Regions from separate parts of the Homo sapiens genome. Here region 1 is linked to region 2. The links come from fine-mapping of genetic effects on plasma protein levels. Region 2 holds a variant in brackets. A gene starts in the other region. All regions are shown on their reverse strands.

Region 1 (8,322 bases), not on the chromosome of region 2:
TAGGAAGTCTTTCTAATTATATGAAAATGAAAACATATTAAACTTGTGGGATCCAACTAAAGTAGTAATTAGAGGGACGTTCATAACAGTAAACCTGTTTATTAGAGATGAAGAAAGATTTTATACCACTGGCCTCAACTTCCATCTTTTTTTTTTTCTTTTTTTTTTTTTGAGACAGAGTCTAGCTCCTGTCACCCAGGCTGGAGTGCAGTGGCGTGATCTCAGCTCACTGTAACCTCCACCTCCCGGGTTCAAGCGATTCTCCTGCCTCAGCCTCCCGAGTAGCTGGGATCACAGGTGCCCACCACCACACCCAGCTAATTTTTGTATTTTTAGTAGAGACGGAGTTTCACCATGTTGGCCAGGCTGGTCTTGAACTCCTGACCTCAGGTGATCCTCCCACCTCAGCCTCCTAAAGTGCTGGGATATCCCAGGCAAGTTCCATCTTTGAAAACTATTGAAAGAGGAGCAAATAAAACACAAGTTAAGTAGAAGAAAGAAAATAATAAAGATCAGGTAGAAATGAATAAAACAGAAAACATAAGAACAATGAAGGAACTCGATGAAATGAAATTTTTTTTTTTTTCTTGAAAACATGAATAGAATTGATCAACCTCCAGCCAAACTTATCAGGGAAAAAAGAGAGAAAATACAAATTATTAATATTAGCAGGGAAATAAGAGAGAAAATACAAATTATTAATATTAGTAATAAAAGAAGTGACATCACTACCTATACTACAGATATTGTAAGACAAGGGATTGTTATGAAAAGCTTTATGCTAATAAATCCAACAACTTAGTTGAAATAAAAACCTTTTTTTTTCCTCTTCTTTTCTTTTTTTTAGACACAGGGTCTGGCTTTGTCACCCAGGCTAGAGTGCAGTCGCTTGATCGCAGCTCACTACAGTCTTGACCTCTCAGGCTCAAGCAATCCTCCTGCTTCAGCCTCCCAAGTAGCTGGGACTACAGGCATGTGCCACCATGCCCAGCTAATTTAAAAAATTTTTAATAGTGGCAGGGTCTCCCTGTGTTGCCCAGGCTGGACTTGAACTTCTGGCCTCAAGTGACCCTCCCACCTTGGCCTCCCAAAGTGCTTGGATTATAGGCATGAACCACTGTACCAGCCAGAAAACGTTTTTTGAAAATAATAAACTATGATACTGCGATATAATAATATATCTTTGGTCTCTGTCCCAGTTTCTAAGACAGAGCTCCTAAAATCCTTATATGCCAGAGTTCTAGGAGAATCTTTTGTTTTAATACTTGGTCTTTGACCCTGGTTCCTGAAACAGAGCTCCTAAATCCCTTGGAATTTCCAGGGTAAGAGGAGCAGCTTTATTTTATTTATTTTTTTTTTTTTGAGACGGAGTCTCCTTCTGTCGCCCGGGCTGGAGTGCAGTGGCGCGATCTCCGCTCACTGCAAGCTCCACCTCCTGGGTTCACACCATTCTCCTGCCTCAGCCTCCCGAGTAGCTGGGACTACATGCACCTGCCACCACGCCTGGCTAATTTTTTTATATTTTTAATAGAACTGGGTTTCACTGTGTTAGCCAGGATGGTCTCCATCTCCTGACCTCGTGATCCGCCCGCCTCGGCCTCCTAAAGTGCTGGGATTACAGGCGTGAGCCACTGCGCCCGGCTATGTGCTTAAAATCCTAGACTCTCAAGGCAGACAAGATTTATGGTCAGGTTTCGGTATTTATTATCTAAGTGACTCTGGGCAACTCCCTTCTTTGTGCTTAGTTTCTCCATCTGCGAAATGGGGCAGCGATAATAACAACAGTGTCCATATAGAGTGGCTATGGCGCTTAAATGGAATAAGAAGAGTGCCTGGCACACAGTCTATACCCACTTAATTATCGTCTTTTGAATAAACTGTCTCAAAGATCAGAAAGCAGGTAGTTGCTGAAACTAGGTTGACTGGCACAAGTTAACCCTCACTTTTCACCATAAAAATTCCATTCTGAAACACACTGCAAGCTTTGGTTAAGTTTACTTGATTAGTGTTTGGAGCAACATAGTAAGACAAAATAGTTGTAGCCAAAGTTATTTTTCAGAAAATAATTTGAGGCTAGGCTGAAAGCCCTCAATCTAGTGATAAGGAGGGTCTCCTAATATACTGCTTAAATGTGTATTCCCCACTGGGACTCAAGCCCTGTCAAAACATCGTTGTTTTGACAGACAATCCAATTAATAGAGGAAGGAGATAAGACATTAAAAGGTTGCCTGTCAGCGTTGTTGAGCCGTGGGCCGTGGCTTACGCCTGTAATCCCAATGGTTGGCTAACGCAGGAGGATCATTTGAGGCCAGGAACTCGAGACCAGCCTGGGCAACACAGCGAGACCTCCTCTCTACATAAAATAAAATAAAATAGCTGGGCGTGGTGGCACGCGCCTTTGGTCCCAGCTACTCAGGAGGCTAAGGTGGGAGACTCACTTGAGGCCAGGAGGTCGAAGTTGCAGTGAGCCGAGATCACGCCACTGCACTCCAGCCTGGGTGATAGAGCGAGACCCTGACTCCAAAAAAAAAAAAAAAACGATATTGTGTGTTTTTTGTTCCAGGATTTTCTGGTCTGTAAAACCACCTGGGGCCAGGCACAGTGGCTCACGCTTGTAATCCCAGATCTTTGGAAGGCCGAGGCGGGCGGATCACCTGGGGTCAGGAGTTTGAGACCAGCTTGGCCAACACGGTGAAACCTGGTCTCTACTAAAAATACAAAAAATTAGCCGGACGTGGTGGCGCACATCTGTAATCCCAGCTACTGTGGAGGCTGAGGCAGGAGAATCGCCTGAACCCAAGTTTGCAGTGAGCCGAGATCACGCCATTGCCCTCCAGCCTGGGCGACAGAGTGAGACCCTGTCTCAAAAACAAAAACAAAAACAAACAAACAAAAACAAAGAAAGAAAAAGAAAAAAGAAAATAAAAAAACACACTGGGAGTGGGCATTATTATGTCCGTTTTACAGCTGAAGAATCCAAGGCTCCTAGAGGTTCCCCGACGCCGCACGCCGGGGAGTCGGCAGCGCGAGCTCCCAGCCAGACCTAGCGCCTCTGGGCTGTGCTCCTGTTGCTTCCCGCAAACCGCGGTCCTGGCGAGGCCTGGGCGTGGAGCGCGGCTGCCGCAGACTCCCTGGGAAGACATGGAGTCAGGGTGCTTAGGGGTTTTTAGGCTCCTGCTCGCCTAGTGGCTGGCTTTCTCCCGGCTGAGAAGCGTCTCTGGGTTCCCAGAAAGGTACCCGAGCTGTTAGAAAAGAGGAGACCCTGGGCCGGGCGCAGTGGCTCACGCCTGTAATCCCAACACTTTGGGAGGCCGAGGCGGGCGGATCACAAGGTCAGGAGATCGAGACCAGCCTGGCCAACAGGGTGAAACCCCGTCTCTACTAAAATACAAAAATTAGCTGGGCGTGGTGGCGGGCGCCTGTAACCCCAGCTACTCGGGAGGCTGCGGCAGGAGAATCGCTTGAACCAGGGCAGTGAGCCGAGATCCCGCCACTGCACTCCAGCCTGGCGACAGAGCGAGACTTTGTCTCAAAAAACAAAACAAAACAAAACAAAACAAAAGAAATAAAAAGAAAAGAAATAAAAGAGGAGACCCTGGCCGGGCTCGGTGGCTCACGTCTATAATCCCAGCACTTTGGGAGGTCGAGGCGGGCGAATCACGAGGTCAGGAGCTCGAGACCAGCCTGGCCAATATGGTGACACCCCGTCTCTACTAAAAATACAAAAATTAGCCGGGTGTGGTGGTGCATGCCTGTAATCCCAGCTACTCGGGAGGCTGAGGCAGAAGAATCGCTTGAACCCGGGAGGCAGAGGTTGTAGTGAGCCGAGATCGCGCCACTGCACTCCACCCTGGGCGACAGAGCGAGACTTCGTCTCAAAAAGAAAAGAAAAAGAAAGGAGGAGACCCAGGGTATGAGCGGAGGAGGCCGGCGCTGCCGGGACCACGCGCGTGCGGTAAACGGTCCCAGAGGCCCGGGCCCCGGCGGCTGCGCCGAGTCCCCGCCCCTCCCTGCTCCGTAGGGGTAGGAGGGGGCCGGCGGAGTTTCCCTCCCCGCCCAGCGGCCCTGGGCGGGCTTTTCGGCTGCTTCTCATAAGCAGGTGGTTTCGTTTCTCCGGCACAGGTAGGTTTCTCTGGCACCGATTCGGGGCCTGCCCGGACTTCGCCGCACGCTGCAGAACCTCGCCCAGCGCCCACCATGCCCCGGCAGCTCAGCGCGGCGGCCGCGCTCTTCGCGTCCCTGGCCGGTGAGTGGCCCTCAGCGCTTCCCGCGGTGGCCCTGACGTGTCGGTCCCCTTTCATCTAAACGCACTCTGGAGTCCCGGGCGCCACAGGACGGGCTGCGGGTAGGGAGGTGTGGCGCGTCCAAGGGCTTCCCAGCTGGAACTTGTTTTCCGTGAGTTACTCAGAGCAGGTGTCAACCCCAAAGACAGTGACACTGTCCCTCGCTTCCAAAAGGGTTCTGGACACCTTCTCAGGGAGAGTTTGTAGAGGTCACTCGGATTTAAGAGATGGAGACCTGAGCTAGGGTTTAGGAATGGGAGTCTTGGCTTTGTTATCCGGGAAAAGCGCTCCTGTCTTGCTTTTCCTTGCATCAGATGTGGTCTGACAGATTGTGCCATTTCAGAAAGGTGTAGGAAGAGTGTCAAAGACTTTTTTTTTTTTAAATGATCATTGTACTTCCCATCCCAGATGCCGTCTGGGACGCTGAGTTTATGATTATTTTATGATCCGACCCTCCGCTTTCTCCAGAGCTTTTCCCCCTAGACATTGAGTCCTCGGGTGCTGTGGTGTTGTCCCTGTGATGAAGTTTCCTGGTTACTCGAACGTCATGAGAGAACTGTCTCCGTCCCTACCGCCCGGCTAACATGCTCAAGCAGGGGGCGCGGTGGCCCTTGCTTGTAACATGAATGCTAGGAATGTTAGGGAAGAGGTGAGAAGGGTCGTGCCAGCTGCCCTTGCCTAGGCAGTTCTCCCCTGCGCCACACTTTCACACTTACAGTTTCAGGTTCTTTTAGGGGACAGAAGAGGAAGTCATCATCACGCTCCACAGGGCAAGCTATTAAAAAAGCAAAACAATCTCAGCCTAGCGGTAACCCACAGTGACCTGTATGTGAGCGCTCCTTGAATGGATGGATAGGCTCAGAAACACAATGGTATTGACAGGCCAGGCGTGGTGGCTCACACCTGCAATCCCAGCACTTTGGGAGGCTGAGGCCGGCGGATCACTTGAGGTCAGGAGTTCGAGACTAGCCTGGCCACCGGTGAAACCCCGCCTCTACTAAAAATACAGAAATTAGCCGGGCATGGTTGTGGGCGCCTGTAATCCCAGGTACTCGGGAGACTGAGGCAGGAGAATCACTTGAACCCAAGAGGCGGAGGTTGCAGTAAGCCAAGATCATGCCACTGCACTCCAACCTAGGTAACAGTGAGACTCTGTCTCAAAAAAAATAAATAAATAAAAATAAAAATACAGTGAGTATTGACAAATGCAAGGGCAAGTGGAGAGAAAATGCCCACATTACCGGTTCCTTTCTGAGCTACAAATTCTCAGAGGTGAGCTAGGTGAAGGATGCATCAGAGGTTTCTTCCTCAGAGGTGGAGGCCTTTGAGGGGTGGCACGGAACTGGATTCAAACCCTTGCCCTGACCCTTCCCAGCAGGGAGGCCTTGTTCACATCACCCAACCTTTCGGGTGCTCAGTTCCCTCACTGAAAAATGGGGAGAATAATATCCTCTGCTAGGAGTACTGGGGAAACAAATGAGGTAGCACCTGGACAGCAATTACTGCAGTGATTTTGCTCAGTGATGTTAACTCGTATCTCCTGTTTGTCCCTCCAGTCCCTCTCCCATTCACCTCACAACCTGACCTTGAGCCCCTTCTTCACTCAGTACAGGGCTCATCAGCACATGGTAATTAACAATGATGGACATGGCTTCCTGGCACTCTCTGCATGCCAGGCACTGTTCGCAGTGCTTTAATCCACAAAACAGCTTTGTAAGTACTGCTATTGTCTCCGTTTTACTTGCGAGGAAATAGAAGCACAAAGAGGTTAAATAACTTGCCCCTGATCACATAGCTAGCTGGTGACAGAGTCGAGCTTTGAACCAGAGTCTGTGCCCATAGCAGCTAACCTATGTGCTTTACTCATACATCTACTTACCTATAACTTATTTAGTCTCATAAGAACCCTGAAAAGTAGGTGCTATTCTTATCCCTATTTTACAGATGGCGGTACTGAGGCAGAGGCAGGTTAAGGAATTGTTCATGGTCTCCCAGTTAGTGAGTAGCATTCCTGAGACTGGCATTCAAGACATCTGGCCTTGGCTGGGCACAGTGACTCACACCTGTAATCCCAGCACTTTGGGATCCTGAGGTGGAAGGTCGCTTGAGGCCAGGAGTTTGAGACCAGCCTGGACAACATAGTGGACTGTGTCTCAAACAAAACAAAACAAAAACGAAGTCTGGCCTTGGGGTTCAGGCTCTACGCTACTGTGCTACATGATCCTGCATGCATAGGCTCAAGAAATCCTTGTTGAATTGGAAATGAGCAAAAATCATCAGAAAGTTTTGCTAGGAGAGACGGAGCTTTTGGGTAAACTCTCTGAGTAATCTTTACCCAGTCAACTTGCTTCCCTGATCTCAAATTTTTCCTCCAGAAAATGAGGGGATTTAAGTTCACGTCAGTTAAGTTTAGGTTCAGTTACACGTAAGACACAAGCCAAAATAACAGTAGATTAAACAAGATAGTTGCTTGTTACTCTTTCATGTGAAAACATGTCCAGAGAAATTCAGGTCAGTTCTAGTGTGGGAGTGCTTCACTGGAGATCCGTCATTAGGATCCGACATATAGGTATGTGACTTCTACCCTCAAGGCCTCCTCACGGTTCCACATGTTGGCTGGAGCTCCAGCCATCACATACAAGTTGCAGGTTGGTCAAAGGAGGAAAAACAGAAGGGCTGTAGAAAGGCAGTCCACACAGGTGATTGAGCTGCCTTCACCCAGCCTTCCCAGAAGGCCCACATGATCTTAACACTTCCCTTCTTTTGCTAAAACTCAGTCATATGCTCCCACCCAGCTAGAAAGGAGGTTTAGACATAGAACTCTTTATTCCAGGCAACAAGTGCTCAGCTGAAACTTGAGGTACTGTTAGAAAGAAGGGGAGACTGGGTTTTGGAATAGTCAGCCAGCAGTCTGTCACAGGGATAGTGGCCCTTCTGCTCTAGGATTTCCTTGACTCTCTCTGCTGCACCCTGCTGGGGCTGCTTCTGCTGCCCCTAGAGGTGCCAGAAAACATGCTGGGGGCTAAACTGTGATTCCCTGAACCTGGACATGGCCGTGGGGCTCCAATGACTCCCTGACTGTGCTCCTCAGAGCTCTGCAGACAGTGTGTAGTCTCCAAGGCCTGCCAGGCCTGCTCCCTGCTGGTCTCCCCTCCTCACCCCTCCCTTCCCATACCGTCCCTGTGTTCCCGTCATGCTGACCCCTTGCTGTTCTCCAGACATACAAGACTTCTGAAGCCTCTGCGCCCTTACACATTCTCTTCCTCCTGTCTGGAAACCATCTCCTCCTTTGTCTGCCTGAAGAATTTATCCTTGTGTTGGATTCCCACCCTACCCACACTCTCATAGTATCTGGGGATTTGATAAAGACACTTGTCAGTCGGGCACAGTGGCCAATGCCTGTAATCCCAGCACTTTGGGAGTCTGAGGTAGGCAGATCACTTAATCCTAGGAGTTTGAAACCAGACTGGGCAACATGGTGAGACTGTACAAAAAATGCAAAAATTAGCTTGACATGGTGGCACATGCCTGTAGTCGCAGCTACTGGAAAGGCTGAGGTGGGAGGATCGCTTGAACCCAGGAAGCTGAGGCTACAGTGAGCCCTGAGCATGCCACTGCACTCCATCCTGGGTGACAGAGTGAGACCCTGTCTCAAGGAGAAAAAAAAAACAAAAACAAAGACAAAAAAAAACACTTGTCACACTGAGAAGTGTGGTTTACTCATGTGTCTGCCTCACAGGGCCCCTGAGAACAAAGACCTACCCCCAGTGCCTGGTACAGAGCCTGCCTGAGAGGAGACCCGTACATACTGTTGAGTGGTGTGGCAGGGAAACCAACCAAAGGCTGTCTGGGAAGGGACTGGCTGTCAGGAAAATACCTAGAAACAATCCCTTGTGAGATCACTGACTTTCTCAGGGGACTGGGCAATGACTCATCTCACACCCACTGGTTGTAGGGGAACCAAAACCTTCTAACGCCTCTTCATGCAAATTTCCATCTAGTGGAGTCCAAGCAATGGATCAAGGCCCTGGGGTGCTTG
Region 2 (8,322 bases):
GTCAATGGGGGAAGGGTCCGGAGGGCTCAGGACCATGGGGTGGGAGCCAGCCCTTGGGGGCGTGGGCCCTCGGACAGGACCGAGTCTGCAGGCAGGGCTAGGGGCTGGGGGCTGCGGGAGGGCCTGGGGATCGGGGCAGCAGGGGTTGTGAGATATGGCCGAGGACAGGGTGGGAGGCGATGGGGGGCTGGCAGTGGGCGGAAAGGCAGGGCTGTGGGTCCTGAGGGATTGCAGAGGGTGGGCGTTCTCAGGAGTGGCGGGTCCTGGGGGATTGCAGAGGGTGGGCGTTCTCAGGAGTGGGCACAGCCTGAAGTGTTGGGTTGTGGGGGGACTTGGAAATGGGCCCCGGGTGCAGGGTCGCCCCAGCCCGGCACCCACGCATCCCCTTCTGTCTCTGGATGGGCCCGTCCTGGACAGTGCATAGTAGTGGGATCACACACATCTGTGCCTGGCGTCTCTCACAGAGCGTGACGTCCTCAAGGTGCGTCTGCGCTGTGGCCTAGGTCGGCCTCGCTGCTGTTCATGGCTGTGTCGTGTTCTGGCACGTGGATGGGCCACGCCACATGCTGGTCCACTCGCCTATCCGTGGACACTGGGCTGCTTCCTCGGGTGGCTGTTGTGAGTGGTGCTGCTGTGGACGTGCATGGCCACGTTTCTGTGTGGTGTGGAATTGCTCGGTGGTGTGGTGACTCCAGCGTTAGCCTCTTGAGGAATCCCAGACTGCCAAGCAGCCGTGTGTGAGGATCCGCCTCCGCCTCCGCCTCCTGGTTTTGGGCCCTGACTCTTGGTTGGTTGTGCCTGGTGTCCGCATTGTTCTCCTGCCCCCATCCCCTCCCGGTCCAGGTCTCCACACCCTGCCAGGTCCCCAAGGCATGGACTCCAGGTCACATGCCATGTGTGAAGCCCTCCCCTTGAAGAACCCGGTCCCCTGAGCCTCCTGGGGTTGCCGCCTGGAAGGGGCGTCCACAGACGTGGGGGGCTCAGAGACCGTAGGGAGGGAGGAGCTGCCAGGAGCACCGTGCTGGCCTAGGGGACTCGGACACAGGCGAGCTCAGGGCCCCTGCTGCTGGAGGGGTCCCTCAGCTATGGTGTACCCCGAGGACGGTCATGGGGTCGCCCCAGAGCTGCCCAAGGTGCCCCCTCCCCAAGCTCCGTCCACCGTGGGGCCTGGGCCCTGCTGCCCATCAGCTCAGGACTGTGTGGCCTCAGAGCTGAGGAGCGCCCTGAGTGTGGAAAAGGTCAGCGTAGCTCTGGGGCTGTGGCTGCCGTGAGATGGAACCTGCAGCAGGAAGGGGTGCTGACAGGAGCTGAGGGGAGTCCCTGCAGGGGAGGGGCTGCTGAGCCCCAAGGCAGGGGGTGGGCCACCCCCTAGCACTGGTGGGCCCCTGGATGGGGACCCCGGTATCAGCAGCTGCCTTGGGCCCAGCAGAGCTGTTTGTGGCCACCAGCACACGGGGCCGGGGTCGGGGGGTCCCAGGCTCTACCCAGAGAACCTGTCTCCCAGAGGAACATACCGAGGCTTGGAGGAGCTTGGGTGTCTGAGGTTATTCAACTCAGAAGGTGGAGCCAGGCTTTGATCCTGCCTGACCCAGAATCTTTGACAAGGATTGGCCAAGACCCCAGATCCCAGCGGGCCTGTCCCTTCCCCTAAAGGGCCGTTCTGGCAAGGGTGTCGCAGGTCCCCGTGGGCAGCTGGAAGGGCTGCCAAGGGTCCCAGCTCTGGTGGCAGTGGGTTGTAGCGTCCTGACTGCAGGGAGCAGGCAGAGGCCGCGGACAGTTGGGACGGCCTGGCAGGGTGACCCCCACTGTGCCTGACCACCTCCATCTGGTCTCTGGGACAGGAGTCCCGACCCCCAGCCCCTGTTGCCCGGCCACTGTCTCTGGAGCGCCGGGCAGAGACGTGCCTCTCCCCCACGGGATTGCACAAGTGCCTGCGTGTGGCTGGACGGCAATTACTGGAAGTCCCGGAGATTTCTTCACTCCAGGGCTTGGCCGGGAGTGGCCGCCGCCTCCCCTTCCTGCCGCCCTCGGCAGTGAGCATGCTGGGCGGACGCCTGGAAAGCTTTCCCTGCCACCACGGGCCAGCCTGGGTCCCTGCACTCGCCAGGTAGGGCCTGGTGGGGGCTCAGCCTGGCGGGCGTCTGGCCGTGTGCCAGAGGCCGCGGGGCACGTGGGAGCTGTCCCTGGCGTCTGATGGTGTGGGGCTCGGCTCTGTAGCCCAGGAACGTTCTCAGTGGGGATGCTGGTGTGTGATTAGCCTGAAACGAGGTCTGGGTGCTCTTCCAGCTCTGCGTGGCCCCTGACCCCCCTCCTTGGGAGACCTCACTGTGGAGCCCCTGCTGCCTCTGAGGGACAGGGCTGGGTCCAGTGTCCCCTGGGCTCCCCTGGGTGCCGGGCCCGGGTTGGACTCTCCCTCCACAGTCTCACACCGGCTGCTGACAAAGCCAGATGTGGGGGAGTCAGCCTGCAGCTCCACTGCTCACAGTCTGGGTGCCTGGTCCTACGGCTGCCCTGTGACCTGGGCAGCCCTGTCGGGCCCACCTTAATCGTTGTAGTTGGGGCCGGGGAGGCCAGGAAAGGCGCTGTGGGCAGCACAAAGGAGTTGGGTGGCACTGCTGATGGCGGGTGGGGGTGAGTGGGGAGGGGAAGGAGCGCCTTTTGGTTCCGGCCCAGGAGGTAGCAGGAGCTGCAGCCCAGGCTGGGACCGGTCATGCCCGAGGGAGAGGCGGCCGGGGAGCACCACTCTCCACCACCGTTGGACTCTCAGGACGTCCCCGTCTCCCTCTGCAGATCATGATGCTGCCGCCACCGCCGCCACCACGGAGCGAGAAGCCCAGATAGACGCCCCGGCGGCCCCGGGTCCTGGAGTCCCGCCGCCTGCTGCCCGGCCGAGGACCCCACCCCGCCTGCCGCCCGATGCTTGCAGTGGGGCCCGCCATGGACAGGGATTACCCGCAGCATGAACCCCCGCCGGCGGGCAGCCTCCTGTACAGCCCGCCGCCCCTGCAGGTGAGCCCCACCCCCGGCCCCGGCCCACCCGACGGGGTCCACGGGCACTTGCCCCGCTCCGAGTGCCCGGGGTCACGTCGTGCGGAATGCTGCCCCAGTGGACGCGGCGTGATCTCCACCTGACCTTCCTGGCCCGGAGCCCGGCTCCACCCGCCCCCGTGGGCCCTGGAGAAGGGTCCCCATGGGGATGTGAATGGGAGGCTACTCATGGCCCCAGCTTTTCAAGAAGCACATTTGAGGAGATTCTCCCTGCTGCAGAGCTTCCAGTTCCTTCGCCGTCAGCTGTAGGGGGGGCTCAACTTTACTTGTAGGAACCTGTCAGTGAGGGAATTACTTAAAAAATATGTTTCTGGCCAAGTGGCTCGTGCTTGTAATCCCAGCACTTTGGGAGGTGGAGGTGGGCAGATCACCTGAGGTCCCGAGTTCAAGACCAGCCTGGCCAACATAGTGAAACCTCGCTTCTGCTAAAGATACCAAACTTAGCCAGGCGTGGTGGCGGACGCCTGTAATCCCAGCTACTCGGGAGGCTGAGGCAGGAGAATTGCTTAAATCTAGGAGGCAGAGGCTGCAGTGAGTGGAGACGGCGCCACTGAACTCTAGCCTGGGCGACAAGAGTGAGACTCCATCTCAAAAAAATGAAAAATAGGCCTGGCACGGTGGCTCACGCCTGTAATCCTAGCACTTTCAGAGGCCAAGGCGGGCAGATCACTTGAGGTCAGGAGTTTGAGACCAGCCTGGCCAACATGGTGAAACCCTGTCTCTACTAAAAATACAAAAAATTAGCCTGGCGTGGTGGCAGGTGTCTGTAATCCCAGCTACTTGGGAGGCTGAGGCAGGAGAATCGCTTGAACCTGGGAGGCAGAGGCTGCAGTGAGCAGAGATTGCACCACTGCACTCCAGCCTGGGTGACAGAGCGAAACTGTGGCTCAAAAAGAAAAAAAAAAATTTTTAAATTAAAAATATATAAACGTGTATATATATATTTATTTTTATTTTATTTCATTTTATTTTATTTTGTTTTGTTATTTTTAAAACACGGTTTCACTCTGTTGCCCAGGCTGGAAGTGCAGTGGTGCGATCTCGGCTCACTGCAGCCTCTGCCTCCTGGGCTAGTGATTCTCCTGCCTCAGCCTCCTGAGTAGCTGGGACCACAGGTACGCGCCACCATGCCCGGCAGATTTTTAAAATTTTCTCGTAGAGATGAGGTTTTGCCCCGTTGGACACGCTGGTCTCAAACTCCCGGGCTCAGTTGACCCGCCTGCCTTGACCTCCCAAAGTGCTGGGATTACAGGCGTGAGCCACCGCGCCCGGCCCTGCCTGGGGATTTACCTGGAGACAGAGGGGCTGCCCTCTCCTATCAAGCAGCAGGACCTGCTCCAGGACTCCAGGGTCTCCTGGGTACTCCCTAGCCCAACACCCAGGTTGGCCTGTGGGGCGAACATCACAGACACCCCTCGGCAGTCCATCCTCAGAGGGCTTTGGGCAGCTTCCTGCCATGTTCTGACCGTCCAGAGGGGGCTCTGAGC[T/C]GGGGCCAGGGTACCCCTCTCGTAGCAGGGTCCCTGTTGCGGCCCAGACCCCTCCTGTCCCCCTCCCTAGTTCCTGAGTCCCTTGGGGTTGAGGCTGGATCCTCACAGCTGCCCCGGTGGAGCTCGAGTACCGGCCGTCGGTCAGCCTCCTGGGCCACCATAAAGGGGACTGGCCAAGCCACATCCCCACCGGAACAGCTCCATCCCCCGAAACCCGCCAGGAGCTTGTTCCGATCCAAGAATTCTATCTCGGAAACACACCCTGGGGACTAATCCAGGAGGGAGGGGAAGACAGAGCGGCACTATTTATAGTGGCAGGAAACTGGAATCTCCCCAGAGGCTCTACGGTGGGGAAATAATTAAGCGAATTATGGGATGTGGAGACAGAGGAGCCATCTTCAAGGATCCGAGCGGGAGCAGGAAGGTGTTAGCAGTGACAGTCGGGGAATGCGACAGGGCTGGAACCCGGCGGGGGCACTGGACACCAGCCACAGGGCTCAGGCCGGGGCGCACCCGTGCGCGTAACCGGCTTTGCTCCCCATCCCGTGTGTGAGGCTCATCCCACCCTCCCTGTTCCGGGTTCCGTCACATTCGGGTACGTCATGGACACCTCTGGGCAGGGTCGACTGAGTTCGCACACGCACAGCCCAGCCTCTTCCAGTGCCCAGAGTATTCAATTAGAAATAAAAATACACCGGCCAGCACAATGGTTCACGCCTGAAATCCCAGCACTCTGGGAGGCCGAGGTGGGCACATTGCTTGGGGTCAGGAGTTCGAGACCGGCCTGGCCAACATGATGAAATCCCATCTCTACTAAAAATACAAAAGTTAGCTGGGCGTGGTGGCGGGCGCCTGTAATCCCAGCTACGCATGAGGCTGAGACAGGAGAATCGCTTGAACTCGGGAGGTGGAGGTTGCAGTGAGCCACGATCGTGCCACTGCACTTCAGCCTGGGTGACAGAGTGAGACTCCGTCTCAAAATAAGGAAAGGAAAGAAAATCACCAGGCAGGCTCTGATTGTCTGGGCAGGGTCAGGTGCCCATCTCTGGACCAATTATGTGCTAGGACCTGCCATCTAAAGGTGAAGCCACACCCTCTGGCTGCCAGAGAAGGTCCCAGGGAAGACTCTGATTGGCCTGCCATGCCCATGGCACCCCTGTGGGGTGGGACTCGGGTGTGTGTGGATGGCAGGTCTCAGAGGAGCCATGGGCTGTGGGAGGGAGGAGACTAGGGGGATAGAGGCAGTCAGGACTTTCCCCCCGTCCCATCCCCTAGCCTGGCCTGGGTACAGGTGGAGCATGTTGGGTGAGCCAGGGACCCCTGGATCCTCCCGCCCTGCGACCCCAAGCCCCCCGCCCCCTTCCTGCAGCTGCAGTTCCCTGGCCGTGGCCCTGCCCAGCCTGGCCCAAGGCGCCGTGTGTGCCTGAGACGGACTCCAGCTCATCTGAGGAGGCTGGGTTGGTCTGGAGTCAGAGTTCTGTTCCAGAATGTTCCGGATGTGCCACATGGCCTTGGGAAGTTCCTGTTTCTCTCCAGGGCTGGCTTTCTCTCTTCCCAAAAGGGCAGGAGGAGGGGAAGGATCAGGAGACCCGGGCTCTGGAGCCCCTGTGGCTGGTGGCCCGGCTTCCTGCAAGCCACTTGCACGGGGTCTTCTCACGGGTGCAGGAGCTCAGGGTGCCCAGGCTGCCGGCCTCTGTGCAGGGGAGGAGCTGTGGGCTTTTGCTGATAAACTTATTTTATGCAAAAGCTGGAGGAGCGGGGCAGCGGTCACCCCGAGGGCTTTGCCTATCTCGAGGCTGTCGGGGGTCCTGGAATCCCCCACCCAGCACCTGCGGGTACAGAAAGTGGCCCCCGGCCATCCGGGCTGGTTCCCAGCCAGTGTGAGGTGAATGAGGGGCAGAGGTGGCCGAGCCCCAGGGAATTGCATCAGGGCCTCATAGAGGAGCAGGGCTCACGTGGGCCTGGGAGAGGTCACTGGGGGACTCAGGGAAGCAGGCGAACCCCCAACCCTGTTCTGGAAGCCAGCGTGGCCCCCAGTCCTGCTGGGATAAGCAGGATGATGCCCCCGGCTGGTGGTGTCTCCCCCATGACCACGGGGGCGTCCGTGACGGCAGGGTCTCCCCCGTGACCGTGGGGGCGTCCGTGACGGCAGGGTCTCCCCCGTGACCGTGGGGGCATCCGTGACGGCAGGGTCTCCCCCGTGACTGTGGGGGCGTCTGTGACGGCAGGGTCTCTCTGCTGCAGGTGAGGTTGGCCCTGTGCAGGTGGGGGCCCTGCTGAGGGGTGCCCATTCTGCAGGGCACGAGGTGTCCACAGCCCTGCCCCCGAAGCCGCAGGTGCTGACCCTGGGCCCGCTGCCGCCCTTGGGCCCGCTGCTGCCCCGTGTGCTCCCCATCCTCAGGTTTTGGGGCCTGCCGTGTGCCTCAAGCCGCTCTCATTCCCAAGGGCAGGCATAGTGAGGTTTTCCCAGAGAACCATGGGGTGGGGACATCGGCTCCTGGCGAGGGTGTTGGGTAAGCCTGGCCTGGAGTCAGACCCACCAGAGATTCGGCCAACCTGGAGCCACTCACGCCTCCACTGACCTCGGGCTGAGCCTCCAGGCCACTGGTCACCATTTCCCAAAGCAGGCTCCCCGCACCCCAGCCCCGTGCAGCTTCTGAGAAGTCAGGGCCCCGTCCCGCAGCAGCCTGAGCTTCCCGGGCACATCAGCTTGTCCGAGGGGCCTGGAGGTGGTGTGAGGCCCTCGCCTGCCCCAGGCCCTGCCCGAGGAGCCCCCGACACCCACCCTCCACCACAGGCAGCGGGTGCGCGTCTCCCTCACGCAAACGGTCCGATCCTCCACCTCCTAGAATGGGGCCTCCAAGCAGGGTCCCGGGGCCAGCGGCACCCCCAGGTCTTGTGTGAGATGCAGACTCCCGGGCTGCGGGCCTGCACATGGGGCTGCTGGTAGAGCAAGACCTGTGCTGAGCCCTTCACGCGGGTGGTTCAGTGCCTTCAGACCACACCACAAGCCTTGGGTGGGGTCTTGTGCAGGTGGGGAAACTGAGGCACGGGGCAGTTAAATGACTCCCCAGGAGATACCAGCAGGGGCGGGATGGGACCCTGACTGCGGGGCCTCCCTAGCCTCTCGGCCTGTCACCCTGCCCGGAGGGCTTAGCCGGGCTGCACCGCAGGTCCTCTGCTTCCCACTCACTGATGCCCGCTGTCTCTTCTAGAGCGCCATGCTGCACTGCCCCTACTGGAACACCTTCTCGCTGCCGCCATACCCTGCCTTCTCCAGCGACAGCCGGTGAGTACCGGGACCCTCCCCGCCTGGCCCCCAGGCTTGCTCATTCTGAAGTCACAGTTACAAACGGAGTTCTGGGTGCAGGGCGCGAGGGCCCAAAGTCTTGTTGAGGGGTTTGGAGGGTGGTGTGCACGTGGTCCTGGAAGGCTCCACCCCACGGGCCAGGTCCAGGCTGAGACCCCTGTTTGTGGAACGCTGTTTTGTGATCCATGGCTTCCCTCTCCTCGAGAGCCCAGCTTGGTAGAGGGCGGGGAGGTGTGGGCTATGGGCCAGGGGGGCCTCCTGTGGAGGTGACACCAGGATGGGAAGGGGCGGGAGGTTTTCTGGGGTGAAGGAGGGTGGGAAGGGGCGGGAGGTTTTCTGGGGTGAAGGAGGGTGGGAAGGGGCGGGAGGTTTTCTGGGGTGAAGGAGGGTGGGAAGGGGCGGGAGGTTTTCTGGGGTGAAGGAGGGTGGGAAGGGGCGGGAGGTTTTCTGGGGTGAAGGAGGGTGGGAAGGGGCGGG

Alleles and levels. Positions count from the first base shown, and alleles are read on the strand shown. Strength reflects both the effect of a copy and how common the allele is.
For the plasma level of the protein whose gene starts at base 4,119 in region 1, allele T in region 2 goes with a higher level than allele C (weak association).

What was found. A credible set is the group of variants that fine-mapping cannot tell apart. PIP is the posterior inclusion probability: the model's chance that the variant is causal. The UK Biobank Pharma Proteomics Project read protein levels with antibody pairs (Olink). The fine-mapping took linkage between variants from a reference panel, not from the people measured, so its PIPs are less certain.
Region 1: LAMP3 starts here. The variant in region 2 is the best candidate, but not a certain one, in a credible set for the plasma level of the LAMP3 protein (UK Biobank, PIP 0.61).

The regions. Positions count from the first base shown.
Region 1 is chr3:183,158,531-183,166,852 of GRCh38, reverse strand. LAMP3 (lysosomal associated membrane protein 3) reads left to right here and starts at 4,119. Exons shown (of 6, transcript NM_014398.4): 1 at 4,119-4,246. The coding sequence starts at 4,198. RefSeq lists a silencer at 3,909-4,118 and enhancers at 4,731-4,940, 6,853-7,352, 8,053-8,322.
Region 2 is chr19:1,148,871-1,157,192 of GRCh38, reverse strand. It overlaps SBNO2 (strawberry notch homolog 2), which reads left to right. Exons shown (of 32, transcript NM_014963.3): 2 at 2,791-3,009; 3 at 7,751-7,824. The coding sequence starts at 2,917. Among named protein-coding and RNA genes, the nearest start is that of SBNO2, 21 kb to the left of the region's middle. The variant T/C (reference allele first, on the strand shown) is at 4,536.